Linked DNA regions of Homo sapiens: region 2 is linked to region 1. Evidence: fine-mapped expression QTL. Tissue or cell type: minor salivary gland. Region 1 holds a variant in brackets; the other region holds the start of a gene. All regions are shown on one strand. Distances are from middle to middle.

The links. PIP is the estimated chance that this variant, and not a neighbour inherited with it, causes the effect.
Region 2: it holds the start of NMRAL1, and the variant in region 1 is fine-mapped to the expression of NMRAL1 in minor salivary gland (GTEx, PIP 0.94).

The regions. Positions count from the first base shown.
Region 1 is chr16:4,780,281-4,788,381 of GRCh38, reverse strand. It overlaps SEPTIN12 (septin 12), which reads left to right and starts at 37. Exons shown (of 10, transcript NM_144605.5): 1 at 37-102; 2 at 715-902; 3 at 2,277-2,402; 4 at 2,494-2,575; 5 at 4,314-4,451; 6 at 4,616-4,733; 7 at 4,825-4,920. The coding sequence starts at 737. The variant T/G (reference allele first, on the strand shown) is at 4,065.
Region 2 is chr16:4,471,435-4,479,535 of GRCh38, reverse strand. It overlaps NMRAL1 (NmrA like redox sensor 1), which reads left to right and starts at 4,911. Exons shown (of 6, transcript NM_020677.6): 1 at 4,911-4,982; 2 at 5,370-5,443. The coding sequence starts at 5,404. HMOX2 (heme oxygenase 2) reads right to left here and starts at 3,138. Exons shown (of 6, transcript NM_002134.4): 1 at 3,049-3,138. It overlaps LOC124903636 (a long non-coding RNA gene), which reads left to right. Exons shown (of 3, transcript XR_007064964.1): 3 at 1-272. RefSeq lists an enhancer at 2,841-3,342.

The DNA of each region.
Region 1 (8,101 bases):
TCTTCGGTTAACTGTCACCCTCTCCCCTCCCCCATCACACACACCAGGCCCTGCCAGGACAAGGCAGCTCCTGGAAGCTCCACCAGGACCCACGTCCACCAGGTGTCACAGCAGGCTGCTTCTCTCTCTCTCTGCCCCCCGTGGGCTCTTCGCACCGCTCCCTCCCAGCCATCTTCCCTGCCTGACCTTGGTCTCTCTCTCTCTGTCTCCGTCACCTTCATGCCTGTGCCGTCTTTCTCGCTCTCTATCAACTCTGCTGTGTGTCCCCCTGGGGAAAGTGGGGGCACCTCCTCCTGAGCCCCCTGCCCAAGTTTCCTGCTGGGACGGGAGCCACTTCACCCCATACACACTCCCTGAAGCCCCTCCAGGACTCCAGCCTGGCTGCAAACACCCATCCTGGACTTTGCCTGGCCCTCCAGGCTCTGCTGGGGGAAGCGACCTGAGAGGCCCCTGCCTGGGCTGTAGGTGGGGACAGGGCAGACCCTTGGGCAGCGGAGCCTCTCTGGATGGGTGTTGAGGCACCCTGCAGAAACAGCTCCCCACAGGCACCCTTGCCACACCCCTGGGACTACAGGCACTTAGGGTACACCAGAGGCATGAAGTGTGGAGGGGGTTGGCCAACGGCCAAGCTCAAATAGGGGTTCAGATAGGAGAGGTCAATGTGGGCTCCTCTGAGCCCCAGTGACCCCCTTCTCCCCACCCACCTGGTGACAGGCATCTCGAACCCTTGGCCCCCATGGACCCCCTGAGGCGCTCCCCCTCTCCCTGCCTGTCCTCGCAGCCCTCCAGCCCCAGCACCCCACCCTGCGAGATGCTTGGTCCTGTGGGCATTGAGGCTGTGCTGGACCAGCTGAAGATCAAGGCTATGAAGATGGGGTTTGAGTTCAACATCATGGTGGTGGGTGAGTGAGAGGTAGGGCCCACGGCAGGACAGACCCACAGTGCTACGCGTGCCTGGGCGTGTGGCCTCACCTTTGGCAGCCTGTCGCCCCTCCCCATCTCTTAGGTGGGCCTGATAATAGCACCTCACAGGGATGTTGTCATTGAAAATTTGAGAAATGCTGAGTCATTAAAAGACAAAAATGTGCCTGGAGCGGTGGCTCACACCTATAATCCAGGGTTTTGGGAGACTGAGGTGGGTGGATCACTTGAGCTCAGGAGTTTGAGACTAGCAAAACCTAATGTCTACAAAAAGTACAAAAATGAGGCCGGGCATGGTGGCTCAAGCCTGTAATTCCAGCACTTTGAAAGGCCAAGGCAGGAGGGTCACTTGAGGTCAGGAGTTCGAAAACAGCCTGGCCAACATGGGGAAACTCCGTCTCTACTAAAAATACAAAAATTTGCCAGGCGTGGTGGTGGGCGCCTGTACTTAGGAGCTACTTAGGAGGCTAAGGCAGGAGAATTGCTTGAACCTGGGAGGCAGATGTTGTAGTGAGCCGAGATTGCGCCACTGTACTCCAGCCTGGGTGACAGAGCAAGACTGAAGCAGAAGGATCCCTGGAGGCCAGGAGTTCATGACCAGCCTAGGCAACACAGCAAGACCCCATCTCTACAAAAAAAATTTAAAAATTAGCCAGGCATGGTGACATGCACCTGAATCCCAGCTACTTGGGGGGCTGAGGTGGGAGGATCGTTTGAACCTGAGGGTGGAGGTTGCAGTGAGCTGCGATCACTTGAGTCTGGGTGACAGATTGAGACCCTGTCTTAAAAATTAAAAAACAGTGCAAGGCCGGGTGTGGTGGCTCACGCCTGTAATCCCAGCACTTTGGGAGGCTGAGGCAGGCGGATCATGAGGTCAGGAAATCAAGACCATCCTGGCTAACATGGTGAAACCCCGTCTCTACTAAAAATACAAAAAAATTAGCCAGGCGTGGTGGCGGGCGCCTGTAGTCCCAGCTACTTGGGAGGCTGAGACAGGGGAATGGCGTGAATCTGGGAGGCGGAGCTTGCAGTGAACCGAGATCCCACCATCGCGCTCCAGCCTGGGTGACAGAGCGAGACTGCGTCTCAAAAAAAAAAAAAAAAAAAGCAGTGCAAAAATCAGCTGGGTATGGTGGCGTGTGCCTACAGTCCCAGCTACTAGGGAGGCCGAGGTGCGAGAATCACTAGAGTCTGGGAAGGTCGAGGCTGCAGTGAACGGGGATTGCATCATTGCACTCCAGCCTGGGTGACAGAGTGAGAACCTGTCTCCAAAAATAAAATAGAAAAGTAAAGAGTTAGAGAAAAACTGCCTAAAACGCCCACCCTAACTGCTGTCATCCGGTTGCCACTCCCAGGGCAAAGCGGGCTGGGCAAGTCCACGATGGTGAACACGCTGTTCAAGTCCAAAGTGTGGAAGTCAAACCCACCGGGCTTGGGGGTGCCCACACCCCAGACGCTGCAGCTGCATTCACTGACCCATGGTGAGTGAGCCCCTGCCCACACCTCACCCCACCCTGCCCCACCCCATCCCACCTGGGTCCAGTCTCTCCCGACTCTGCTCTCCCTCCACAGTCATAGAGGAGAAGGGTGTGAAGCTGAAGCTGACGGTGACGGACACGCCCGGCTTCGGGGACCAGATCAACAATGACAACTGGTAGGTTCTCTCTCTTTTTTTTTTTTTTTAGGCAGAGTTTCACTCTTGTCACCCAGGCTGGAGTGCAATGGCATGATCTCGGCTCACTGCAACCTCCACCTCCCAGGTTCAAGTGATTCTCCTGCCTCAGCCTCCCGAAGTAGCTGGGATTACAGGCGCCCGCCACCACGCCCAGCTAATTTTTTTTGTATTTTTAGTTGAGATGGGGTTTCACCATGTTGGCCAGGCTGGTCTTGAACTCCTGACCTCAGATGATCCACCCGCCTCGGCCTCCCAAAGTGCTGGGATTACAGGCATGAGCCACTGTGCCCGCAACAAGTGGTGGGTTCTCAAAGGTGGGGGCCAAGCCATGGCTGTCCCCTCCTGTCCGTGCCCCTCCCCCTTCAACCTTTGGGAAACACCCCAGACCTGGAACAGCCAGGCTGTGTGATCTTTTTTTTTTTTGAGACAGAATCTAGCTCTTGTCGCCCAGGCCAGAGTGCAGTGACACAATCTCGGCTCACTGCAACCTCTGCCTCCTGGGTTCAAGCAATTTCCGGCTAATTTTTTTTTTTTTTAAGACAGACTCGCTCTTGTCACCCAGGCCAGAGTGCAGTGGCACAATCTCTGCTCACTGCAACCTCCGCCTCCCGGGGTTCAAGCAATTCTCCTGCCTCAGCCTCCCAAGTAGCTGGGATTACAGACATCCGCCAACACGCTCGGCTACTTTTTTGAATTTATTTAGTAGAGACGGGGTTTCACCACGTTGGCCAGGCTGGTCTCAAACTCCTGACCTCGGGTGGTCCGCCCACCTCAGTCTCCCAAAGTGCTGGGATTACAGGTGTGAGCCACTGCACCCGGCCCAATTTTTGTATTTTTAGTAGAGACGGGGATTTCCCCATGTTGGCCAGGCTGGTCTCGAACTACTGACCTCAGGTGATCCACTTGCTTCAGCCTCCCAAAGCACTGGGATTACACGCATAAGCCACCGCACCTGGCCCTGGTTTCATTTTATTTATTTATTTATTTATTTATTTATTTATTTATTTATTTATTTAGAGACAGTGTCTCAGTCTGTTTCCCAGGCTGGAGTGCAGTGGCGAGATCATGGCTCACTGCAGCCTTGACCTCCCCAAGCTCAAGGACCCTCCTGCCTCAGCCTCCTGAGTAGCTGTGACCACAGGCACGTGCCACCCCACCGAGCTAATTTGTGTATTTTTTGTAGAGTTGGCGTTTCCCCATGTTGCCCAGGCTAGCCTCGAATTCCTGGGCTCGAGCGATCCTCCTGCCTCCGCCTCCCAAAGTGCTGGGATTACAGGCATGAGCCATCGGGCCTGGCCTGACACCTGTTTTTAAAAGGATCTGTTTGGCTACTTACAGTGTTGACAATACCCAAGAGGGGAAGGGACTCGAAGAGGAGGAGGGAGACCCCTGCAACCATCAGGCGCGATTCCTTGGTGGTTTGGGCCCAGCTGTGGCCCTTTAATACAGTTAATGCTCACCCCTCCCT[T/G]ACTTGCAACGTAGGTGCTACTATTGTCTCCATTTTACAGACAGTGAAGCCGAGAATGGCAGGAGGTCTCCCTGTGTGTCTCTGATGATGCAGGGAAGTGGGGGAAAGTACCGGGGTGACCCACAGGTCCCGGGCCAACCGGGACGATTCGTCGTCCCAAGGGAGGACCGCCCAGAGGACACAGAGGAGAGGGGTGGGGCTCTCTGGGCACAGCACAGTTCTGAGGGGAGGGTCCACCTCCCGCCTCAGCTGGGACCCCATCCTGGGCTACATCAACGAGCAATACGAGCAGTACCTGCAGGAGGAGATCCTCATCACCCGCCAGCGCCACATCCCAGACACCCGGGTGCACTGCTGCGTGTACTTTGTACCACCCACTGGGCACTGGTGAGGGGGCTGCACCTGCAAGGCGAGGACCACCTGCACGGGGCAGGGAGGAGGAGAAGGGGTCCCCACCATGGGCTGCCGGCTGCCCCCACCCCCGTGCCCTGCTGCTGTCGTTTATACACTCACCACCACCGCCACCCCCATCACTGCCCTGCCTCCGGCAGCCTGCGGCCCCTGGACATTGAGTTCCTGCAGCGGCTGTGCCGGACTGTGAATGTGGTGCCCGTGATTGCCAGGGCCGACAGCCTGACCATGGAGGAGCGAGAGGCCTTCAGGCGCAGGGTGATCTGGATGCCCGGGCAGGGCTGGGGTCAGCGGGGGCAGAGGGCAGAGTGGGCAGGGTGGGCTGAGGTCACCTGTGTGGGATCTCCAGATCCAGCAGAACCTGAGGACCCACTGCATCGACGTCTACCCCCAGATGTGCTTTGACGAGGACATCAATGACAAAATCCTCAACAGCAAGTTACGGGTGAGAGGCTGTGGGGCGGGAGGCGGGCGAGGTGATTTCCTTCCCACACATCCTTTCCATCCAAAGACTCATCTTTCTCTACATCTCAGGGAAATGTGCACATATTCCTAGCAGATATGATTCTCTACTCATCCACAAGCTCAAGGTGAGCAAGAAATAACAGCTCACACTAACAACCCACAGAATCGGAGAAAATGTCTGCGAATCACATACCCAATAAGGGGCTTGTATCCTGAATATATAGAGAACATTGGGCCGGGCACAGTGGCTCACGCCTGTAATCCCAGCAGTTTGGGAGGCCGAGGCAGGCAGATCGCTTGAGGTCAGGAGTTGGAGACCAGCCTGGCCAACATGGTGAAACCTTGTCTCTGCCAAAAATGCAAAAAATTGGCTGGGTGTGGTGGTGCACGCCTTTAGTCCCAGCTACTCAGGAGGCTGAAGCGGGAGAATTTTGAAACTGGGAGGCAGAGGTTGCAGTGAGTGAGCTGAGATGGCGCCATTGCACTCCAGCCTGGGCAAGAAGAGTGAAACTCCATCTCAGAAAAAAAAAATGTGTTGGCCGGGCGCAGTGGCTCAGCCCTGTAATCCCTGCACTTTGGGAGGCCGAGGTGGGTGGATCACCTGAGGTCAGGAGTTCGAGACCAGCCTGGCCAACATGACGAAACCCCGTCTCTACTAAAAATACAAGAAATCAGCTGGGCGTGGTGGTGGGTGCCTGTAAGCCCAGCTACTCAGGAGGCTGAGGCAGGAGAATCGGTTGAATCTTGGAGGTGGAGGTTACGGTGAGCCGAGATTGCGCCACTGCACCCCAGCCTGGGCAACAAGAGCAAAACTCCAGCTTAAAAAAAAAAGTGCTGTGGAAGATGTGGAGGAACTGAAACCCTCACCTACTGCTGGAGGGAAAGTAAAATGGCTCAGCCACTTTGGAAAACAGTCTGGTGGTTCCTCAAATGCTTAAACATGCAGTTACTCTATGACCCAGCAACTGAACTCCTACGTGTATACCCAAAAGAAACAAAAATGTACATTCACAGAAAAATGTGTACGTGAATGTTCACAGCAGCATTATTTATTTTAGCCCCGAAAGTGGAAGCAACCCAAATATGCATCAACAGATGAGTGGGGAAACACAGTGCGGCCTATTCCCTACCATGGACTATCCCTTAACCATGAAAAGCAATGAAGTTCACCCTTTAAAAGTGTACAGTTCAAGGCTGGGCTCAGTGGCTCATGCCTGTAATCCCAGCACTTTGGGAAGCTGAGGTGGGCAGATCACTTGCGGCCAGGGGTTCGAGACCAGCCTGGCTAACATGGTGAAACTCTGTCTCTACTAAAAATACAAAATTAGCTGCGTGTGGTGGCACGCACCTGTAATCCCAGCTACTGGGGAGACTGAGGCAGGAGAATTGCTTGAACCTGGAAGGTGAAGGTTGCAGTGAGCAGAGATTGTGACACTGCACTCCAGCCTGGGCAAGGGAGTGAGACCCTGTCTCAAAAAAAAAAAAAAAAAAAAAAAAAGGCCGGGCACGGTGGCTCACACCTGTAATCCCAGCACTTTGGGCGGCTGAGGTGGGCAGATTACCTGAGGTCGGGAGTTCGAGACCAGCCTGACCGACATGGAGAAATCCCGTCTCTCCTAAAAATACAAAATTAGCCGGGTGTGGTGGTGCATGCCTGTAATCCCAGCTACTTAGGAGGCTGAGGCAGGAGAATCACTTGAACCCAGGAGATGGAGATTGCAGTGAGCTGAGATCACACCGTTGCACCCCAGCCTGGGCAAGGGAGTGAGACCCTGTCTCAAAAAAAAAAAAAAAAATGAAGCACTGTCACCCTGTCACCTGCCTGCTACAGCGTGGGGGAACCTTGTAAACATGTTTCTCAGACAAAAATCAGTCAGACACAAAAGGTCACGTATTATGGGATTCCATTTATATGAAATGTCCCAAATAGGCATAGGCAAATCTATAGAGACAGAAAGTAGATTGGTGGTAGTCAGGGGCTGTGGGGAAGGGAGAAATGGGGAGTGATTGCTAAAAGGTATGGGGTTTTTTTGGGGGGACGTGATGAAAACGTTGTGAAATTAGATTGCGATGATGGTTGCATAACCCTGGTCAAATACTAAAAACCCCCGTACCGTACAATGTTTTGTTTGTTTTGTTTTTAATGTTGTTTTTTTTATGAGATAGGGTCTTTTTTTTTTTTTTAGATGGAGTCTCCCTCTGTCACCCAAGCTGGAGTATAGTGGCGTGATCTCCGCTCACTGCAACCCCTGCCTCCTGGGTTCAAGCGATTCTCCTGCCTCAGCCTCCTGAGTAGCTGGGACTATAGGTGCACAATACCACGCCTGGCTAATTATTGTCTTTTTGGTAGAGATGGGGTTTCACTATTTCAGCCAGGGTGATCTCGATCTCCTGACCTTGTGATCCACCCATCTCAGCCTCCCAAAGTGCTGGGATTATAGGCGTGAGCCACCGTGCCCAGCAGAGACAGGGTCTTGTTCTGTGGCCCAGGCTGGGGTGCAGTGGCAGGATCTCCGTTCACAGCAACCTCCAACCTCCTGGGTTCAGGTGATTCTCCCACCTCAGCCTCCTGAGTAGCTGGGATTACAGGCATGCGCCACCACACCCAGCTAATTTTTTATTTTTCCTAGAGACAGGGTTTCACCATGTTGACCAGGCTGGTCTTGAAGTCCTGACCTCAGGTGATCTGCCTGCCTTCACCTCCCAAAATGCTAGGATTACAGGTGTGAGCCACCACGCCCAATATTATCAACATCCACATTACTCCCCATCACAGATGAATTCAGAAGTAAAAACCCATATATGTCACTTCGGAGTTTGCAAGTTTGAATTTCTGCTTCTGGCCATGAGCAAGTAAACAACTGGAGTTTACGGTAGGGTTCAACAACCTTTTCTGCAAAGGGCCAGGTAGTAAATGTTTTAGACTTTCTGGGCCGTAGGGTCTCTGTTGTGATGATTCAACTCTGATGTCATGGTTCAAGAGCAGCCATAGACAAAAATGACTCATAGGCTCAACTATGTGCCAATAAAACTTTATATATAGGAAGACAGGCAGGCTGGGTGTGGTAGCTCACTCCTATAATCCCACCACTTTGGAAGGCAGAGGCGGGAGGATCACTTGAGCCCAGGAGTTAGAGACCAGCCTGGGCAACACAGAGAAC
Region 2 (8,101 bases), 310 kb after region 1:
TGGCTTCTGACATACACACTGACAGCACAGTTCACCAGACAACAATCACTCTTCTGGCGTCCCTTTCCCCAGGTATTCTATTCGCTTACTGCTCTATCTTCCCTGCCAGTCCACTCCCTCCTCTTTCCAGCCTGTGCCTTAGACAAGGACCCCAAACAAGGATCACCTGGGAAACTCCAAAAAACAGATTCCTAGTCATAATCCCAATTTTACCAAAAAAGAAGCGTTTGGAAACCCCTTAGATCGACAAGCAGCATCCAAAGACACCAAAAACTTAGGCTCATCAAGTATTAACTTCCTGCCTCAGCCTCCCAAGTAGCTGAGATTACAGGTATGTGCTAGCATCCTACTTATTGTTCACTCTGATAGAATTTTTTTTTCTTTGAGATGAAGTTTTGCTCTTGTCGCCCAGGCTGGAGTGCAATGGCATGATCTTGGCTCACTGAAACCTCTGCCTCCCAGGTTCAAGCAATTCTCCTTGCTCAGCCTCCCGAGTAGCTGGGATTACAGGCTACTTTTTGCAAGGCTAATTTTTGTATTTTTAGTAGAGACGGGGTTTCACAATGTTAGCCAGGCTGGTCTCGAACTCCTGACCTCAGGTGATCCACCCGCCTTGGTCTCCCAAAGTGCTGGGATTACAGGCGTGAGCCACCGCACCCAGTCTAGGTCAAGTTTTTCATCTCTTTCCTTTCCAAGGAGTTAAAGCTGAATTTCAAATTTTACAGTGAAATACACAATTCTAATTTTCTTTCTTTCTTTTTTTTTTTTTTGAGATGCAGTTTTGCTCCTGTTGCCCAGGCTGGAATGCAGTGGCACAATCTTGGCTCATCGCAACCTCTGCCTCCCAGGTTCAAGTGATTCTCCTGCCTCGGCCTCCCAAGTAGCTCGGATTACAGGCACACACCACCATGCCCAGCTAATTTTTGTATTATTATTATTTTTTTCTTAGTAGAGATGGGGTTTTTCCATGTTGGTCAGGCTGGTCTCTATCTCCCGACCTCAGGTGATCCGCCCATCTCGGCCTCCCAAAGTGCTGGGATCACAAGCATGAGCCACTGCACCGGGCCCACAATTCTAATTTTCAAATATATCTTCCTCCTGGAGGAGTGATATTCCAGTTTTGGGTGCAATCCTGATGTAGAGCCCAACTGTCCTGTGAAGAGAGTCAGCTGTTAAAAGGAAACCAAAAAATCAAGGTAGCTCTAGCTGTCCAATTTTACAAGTTTTCAACAGACTTGATGAGGGGTGAGCTAAAGGCGGTCAATGCTTTATTGTCTGTAACTCACTGGCACTGGCATTTCTAGAGTTGCTCACGTTCCCCCTTTTGGTGACTCACAGCACTTCAACATGTTGCCACAGCCAAGGAAAAAAGGAAATCAAGTCAGACAATGGAGGAATCACAGGATTTCCCTCTTCACATCCCCAGGTAGATGAGGTCATTCAATGAGTGTGTTTCCAAGGCTCCACAAATTCCCACACCCTCACCAGTGTTTAAACCTGAATGTTTTATCTGATAACTTTTTCTAATTTCACCAAGTAAGCTTATATATGTCTTAACTGTGAACTCCTGATAAGCACAAATTTTGTCTTGTGATAATTTATTTTTTTCTTTTTTGAGACAGGGTCTCACTCTGTCACCCAGGCTGGAGTGCAGTGATGCGATCTCAGCTCACTGCAATCTCCACTTCGTGGGCTCAAGTGATCCTCCAACCTCAAACTCCCCAGTAGCTGGGATTACAGACACGCGCCACCCCGCCCGTTTAACTTTTTTGTATTTTTAGTAGAGACGGGGTTTCACCATGTTGGCCAGGCTGATCTCGAACTCCTGACCTCAGGTGATCCGCCTGCCTCGGCCTCCCAAAGTGCTGGGATTACAGGAGTGAGCCACTGCACCGGCCAGCGTTTCTTTCTTCAATCACACTCCACCTTGTCTGGTTTGTAGCGCCATCAACAAAACACAGTACGTAAGGATGGACAGCCACAGGCCACGACAACCGGCTCATCAGAAGCGATTTTTTTTTTTTTTTTTTTTTTTTTTAGATGGAGTCTTGCTCTGTCGCCCAGGCTGGAGTGCAATGGCGTGATCTCGGCTCACTGCAACCTCTGCCTCCCGGGTTCAAGCGATTCTCCTGCCTCAGCCTCCTAAGTAGCTGGAGCTACAGGCTCACGTTACCATGCCCGGCTGATTTTTGTATTTTTAGTAGAGACGGGGTTTCACTATGTTGGCCAGGCTGGTCTCGGACTCCTGACCTCAAGCAATCCGCCCGCCCTGGCCTCCCAAAGTGCTGGAATTACAGGCGTGAGCCACCGACCCGGCCCAGACGCGATTTAAATGGCATGACACAGGCAGGCCTCGTGCAAAGACTGCAAGGAGGTCCCGGCAGCTTTTGCAGGGCAATTAATCCACCCAGAGCACTGCGCTCAGAAAGTAATAGGTAAACCCGCGTCCGGACTAACCGGCTGCCCCCACACTTGATCCCTCCCAGTCCGACTCTGCTCCAGGGCGTACCAGGGTTCACTCGTGAAGTCACGACACCCACTCAAGGGGCACTTCCTATAGAGATAAGGGCATTAGAGGAAGGGCAGAGCCCCGGTCAATGCCAACAGCCCGGGAAACAGCCAAGCCGGGCTCCAATCTCTGCCGGCATCCCCTGTCTGCACCGCCGACGCCCCCAGCTACGACCCCGGGGGTCACCTCGCCCAGCATAGCCGTGACGCTGGGAGAGGGTGGGCCCAACGGGGACGCCAAAGAGAGCCATTCAGGCCTCCCCGCGCCCCCGGGGAGACGACTTCTGGAGAGCGGCGTCCGCGGTTTCGCCCTCCCCTGACAGCCCCTCCACGCCCTTCTTCGTCCTTCTGCCCGGCCTCACCCAGCTTCCGGCCGCCCCCGGCCGGGTCTCCCCTCAGACCGGCGCAGGGGACCCAAAGGGCTGTGGCCCGGCCAAGCCCAGGTCCGAAGGCCTGGACCGAGGCAGGGCCCGCGAAGGACGCAGCGCGGTCCGAGAAGCCGGGCGGAAGGAAGGCCCCGGGAGGGCGCGGACAGCTCACCTGCCGCAGGTCGCTGTCGCCTGTCCGCCAGCCTCCAGTCAGCGTGCCCGTCAGCGACTCCCTCAGGCGCCGCAGTCCCTGCAGCCCAGCGGACTGGCGCGAGGCCGGCGCAACGTGGGCACGCAGCGCGGGGCGGGGCCTAGAGATGACACGCCCCTTGTAGCTGACACGCCCTTGCCGGGGGCGGGAAGCGGAGTATGTGGCTTTCCCCAGGTCTCTGGAGGTTGCAGGCTCAGGCTCTGCTCAGCGGGGTAAGTAGGCGTGCTTCGGCAGGAACACTAGTGTTCACAAGAGCCGAGGTGTGTGAGGGTGCCTCAGGGTTGAGCACTTTTCTTCCCCAGTGTGGTTTAATCCTTGTACATCCACTCAGTGATGTAAGAAATAGGGTTGTCAACCGTGGCACCACCCACTTGGTCACTTGCCAATGCAATCTGCGAAACTGAGTCTCAACTCTGACACCTCGGTTACCAGTCTTGTATCTGATCTCCCTGTTGCATTATTCGCATTCTTCAAACAGCGGCCAGAATGACAGAATGATTTTTCTTTTTTTGAGACCGAGTTTTGCTCGTCGCCCAGGCTGGAGTGCAATGACGTGATCTCGGCTCACTGCAACCCCCTTCTCCCGGGTTCAAGCGATTCTCCTGCCTTAACCTCCCGAATAGCTGGGATTACAAGCGCCTGCCACCACGCCCGGCTAATTTTTGTATTTTTAGTAGAGACGGGGGTTTCACCATGTTGGCCAGGCTGGTCTCGAACTCCTGAGCTCAGGTGATCCACCCGCCTCGGCCTCCCAAATCACTGCAATTACAGGCCACCGCACCCAGCCCAGAGTCATTTTTTAGTTTTACTGAACACAAAGAAATTACTGAAATCGTGGGCCGGGTGTGGTGGCTCATGTCTGTAATCCCAGCACTTTGGGAGCCTGAGGCGGGAAGATCACTTGAGGTCAGCAGTTCGAGACCAGCCTGGCCAGCATGTTGAAACCCCGTCTCTACCAAAAATACAAAAAAATTTTAGCCGGGCATGGTGGCTCCTGCCTGTAATCCCAGCTACTCAGGAAACTGAGGCAGGAGAATCACTTGAACCCAAGAGGCGGAAGTTGCAGTGAGCCAAGATCGCACCACCACTGCACTCCAGCCTGGGCCACAGAGCAAGACTCCACCTTGAAAACAAAAAACAAAAACAAAAAAAAACTGAAATCAGTGCAAGTAGCAGCAACTTCAGAAGTGAGTTAGGGCTGGGCACGGTGGCTCCCACCTGTACTCCCAGCACTTTGGGAGGCTGAGGTGGGTGGATCACTTTAAGTCAGGAGTTCGAGACCTGCCTGGTCAACCTGGTGAAACCCCGTCTCTACTAAAAAATACAAAAATTAGCCGGGCTTGGTGGCACATGCTTGTAATCCCAGCTACTCGGGAGGCTGAGGCAGGAGAATCTCTTGAACCCGGGGGGCGGAGGTTGCAGTAAGCCGAGATCGCGCCACTGCACACCAGCCTGGGCGACGGACCAAGACACTGTCTCAAAAAAATAAAAATAATAAAATTTTAAAAGTGAGTTAGGCAAAGAAAATATCAAGCGGACAAGGCCTCAAGGGATAAGACTCATGGACATAGCTTTAATTATCTTTGCCTGACGCCCAATACCTGAAAATTAAGATGTTCATGCAAGATAAAGAGGTAATTTTTCTCCTCCTCCCAGTCATCACCCGTAGCATCCGGTTAAGAGGCTCTCCACCTCGCTCATTTTGGTCTAACTGGATTTACACAAACTCACTGTGCACGTGCCTGGGGCGGGCAAACCCGGAAACGACGCCGAGTCCCGCGGGATCCAGGAGGAGCCAACTGCGCCGGAGGAGGGGTTTCGGCCGACACGTCGGGATTGGCGGCTGCAGCCAGGGGTCCTCCGACGCTGGGCTTCCGTGAGCGGCGCTCTGCCAGGTGGGGCCGGAGCTGCGGGGAGGGAGTTGGCGCCTAGCGCGCAGCTCCATCCCCGCCTCTGCAGTGGACTCGGCCGCAGAATCGGGGTCCCGGGCTCCTGGAACTTGTCCCGCCCAGGCCGCGGCGAGGAGGTCACTCCAGCCGGTGGGACCCGGGCCGGGGGGCGGGTGACTGGAACCGGGGGAGGCGGGAAGGAGGAGGGGATCGGGCCCAAGGGACACGAGGTGGGTCGCGGGACCCCGATATCTCGGGACAGGCGTCTTGCCGCTCCGGGCCCAGCCGCCCCCTTCGACACATACTCGATGCATAGACAATGGGGGTGTCCTTTGTCGCTCCTGGCGGGAACCCCGGCCCCACCCCCAACTCCACGCCTCCCATTACCCCCAGATCTCTGGACCGGATTCGTCCCATTCTCGTCCTCATGGTGGACAAGAAACTGGTGGTGGTTTTCGGAGGCACAGGTGAGCCAAACCCCAGACTGGGGCCCTTGCAGAGCCAGGGCGCCTAGCCCTGAAGACCGCCCGTCCTGGGGTCTGCAGGGAGGGGTAAGGTCACTGGGACCCCCGACCCAGGTTGGGGCTGTGGTCGCAGGAACGAGGCCCAAATTGCTTTCCAATTTTTTTTTTTTTGGACGGAGTTTTGCTCTGTCACCCAGGCTGCAGTGCGATGGCACGATCTCGGCTCATTGCAACCTTTGCCTCCCGGGTTGAAGCGATTCTCCTGTCTCAGCCTCCCGAGTAGCTGGGATTACAAGGGCATGCCACCACGCCCGGCTAATTTTTGTATTTTTAGTAGAGACGGGGTTTCATCATATTGGTCAGGCTGGTCTCAAACTCCTGACCTCAGGTGATGACCCGCCTCGGCCTCCCAAAGTGCAGGTATTACAGGCATGAACCACCACGCCAGACCTGCTTTCCAAATTAAAAAAAAATGAGTTACTTAACTTATTTGAATAGGAGTACTTGAACATGATACCAAAATTAAATCTTCTTCCTAGCCTCCTCTTCCACCTCATCTATTGCTGTTACCAAGTTTCTTGAATATCCTGCCAGAGTAGATAACATGTTATCATTTTTTCAAATGATAGCATATTATTTCATTCCTATTTTTTCTTATTTATACATATTTAATATCTCTAACAGCTTTATTGAGATATAATTCACGTACTATACAATCTACCTGTTTAAAGTGTGCAACTCACTGGTTTCTAGTGTATTCATAGAATTGTACAACCATCACCACAATCAATTTTAGAAAATTTCCATCACTCCAAAAAGAAACTCTGGCCCAGGTGCAGTGGCTCAACCCTGTAATCCCAGCACTTTAGTTGGACCAAATGGGCAGATCGCTTGAGCTGAGGTGTTTGAGACCAGCCTGAACAACAGGGCAAAATCTCGTCTCTACAAAAAAATACAAAAATTAGTGGGGCGTGGTGTCATGCACCTATAGCTACCTAGGAGGTTGAGGTGGGAGGATCACCTGAGTCCAGCAGGTCAAGGCTGCAGTGACCTGATTGTGCCACTGCACTCCAGCCTGGGCAACAGAGTGAGACCTGATCTCAAAAAAAAAAAAAAAAAAAAGAACTCCATGAACCCGTGAACAGTTACTCCCCATTCTTACTCCTCCCAGCCAACCCCTAGAAAGCTCCAATCTACTTTTGGTTTCTATGGATTTGTCTATTCGGGACATTTCATATGAATAAAATCATAATATGTAGCCTTTTCTCTCTGGCTTCTTCAGTTAGCATGTTTTCAAGGTTTGTTCATGTTGTAGTGTGTGTCCGGGCTTTACTCTTTTTTTTTTTTTTTTTGAGACAGAGTCCCGCTCTGTTGCCCAGGCAGCAGTGCAGTGGCGTGATCTCTGCTCACTGCAACTTCTGCCACTCGGGTTCAAGCGATTCTCCTGTCTCACCCTCCTGAGTAGCAGGGACTACAGGCGTGAGCCACCATGCCTGGCTAATTTTTGTATTTTTAATAGAGATGGGGTTTTGCCATGTGGCCAGGCTGGTCTCAAACTCCTGACCTCAGGTGATCTGCCCACTTCAGCTTCCTAAAGTGCTGGGATTAGAGGCTTGAGCCACCGCGCCCGGCCAACTTTACTTTTTTATTTTTAAGACAGAGTTTCTCTCTTGTTGCCCAGGCTGGAGTGCAATGGTGTGATCTCTGCTCGCTGCAACCTCTGCCTCCCGGGTTCAAGCAATTCTCCTGCCTCAGCCTCCCAAGTAGCTGGGATTACAGGTGTGCACCACCACACCCAGCTAATTTTGTATTTTTTAGTAGAGACGGGGTTTCACCATGTTGGTCAGGCTGGTCTCGAACTCCTGACAGCTTTACTTATTTTTATGGCTGAGTAATATTCCACCGTATGGATAGACTATATTCTGTTTGTCCATTCGTCAGTGGATGGATACTTGATTTATTTCCACTTTTTGGCTATTATGAATAATGCTGCCATGGAACATTGGTGTACACTTTTTTCTGAGTCAGGGTCTTGCTCTGTTGCCCAGGCTGGAGTGCAGTGGCTCAATCATCACTCACTACAGCTTTGACTTCCAAGCCTCAAGCAATCCTCCTGACTCATTCGCCTGAGTAGCTGGGACTTCAGATGAGCGCTAACAGGCCCAGCTGATTTTTTAATTTTTTGTAGAGACTGGGTCTCACCCTGCTGCCTAGGCTGGTCTCAAACTCCTGGCCTCAAGCAAAACCCATCCCCCTTACCCTCCCAAAGTGCTTAGATTACAGCTATGAGCTACTGTGCCCGGCCTCAGTCCTTATTTTTGATGCATTTCTGTGTAAATTGCAGATATGTGTACACCGCCCTTCCATACTAAAGCATGCATAACATTAGCTAGAATTCAGTATTTGTTTATAGATTATTTTTAATTATGAGGTAAAATATACATATAATAAAGAATTTTTTTTTTTTTTTTTTTTTGGAGACAGGGCCTTACTCTGTTACCCAGGCTGGCGTGCAGTGGTGTGATCACGGCTCACTGCAGCCTCAACCTCCTGGGTTCAGGCTTTCCTCCAGCCTCAGCCTCCCTGGTAGCTGGGACTACAGGCACATGCCACCACGCCCAGCTAATTTTTGGTTTTTTTTTGTAGAGATATGGTTTCACC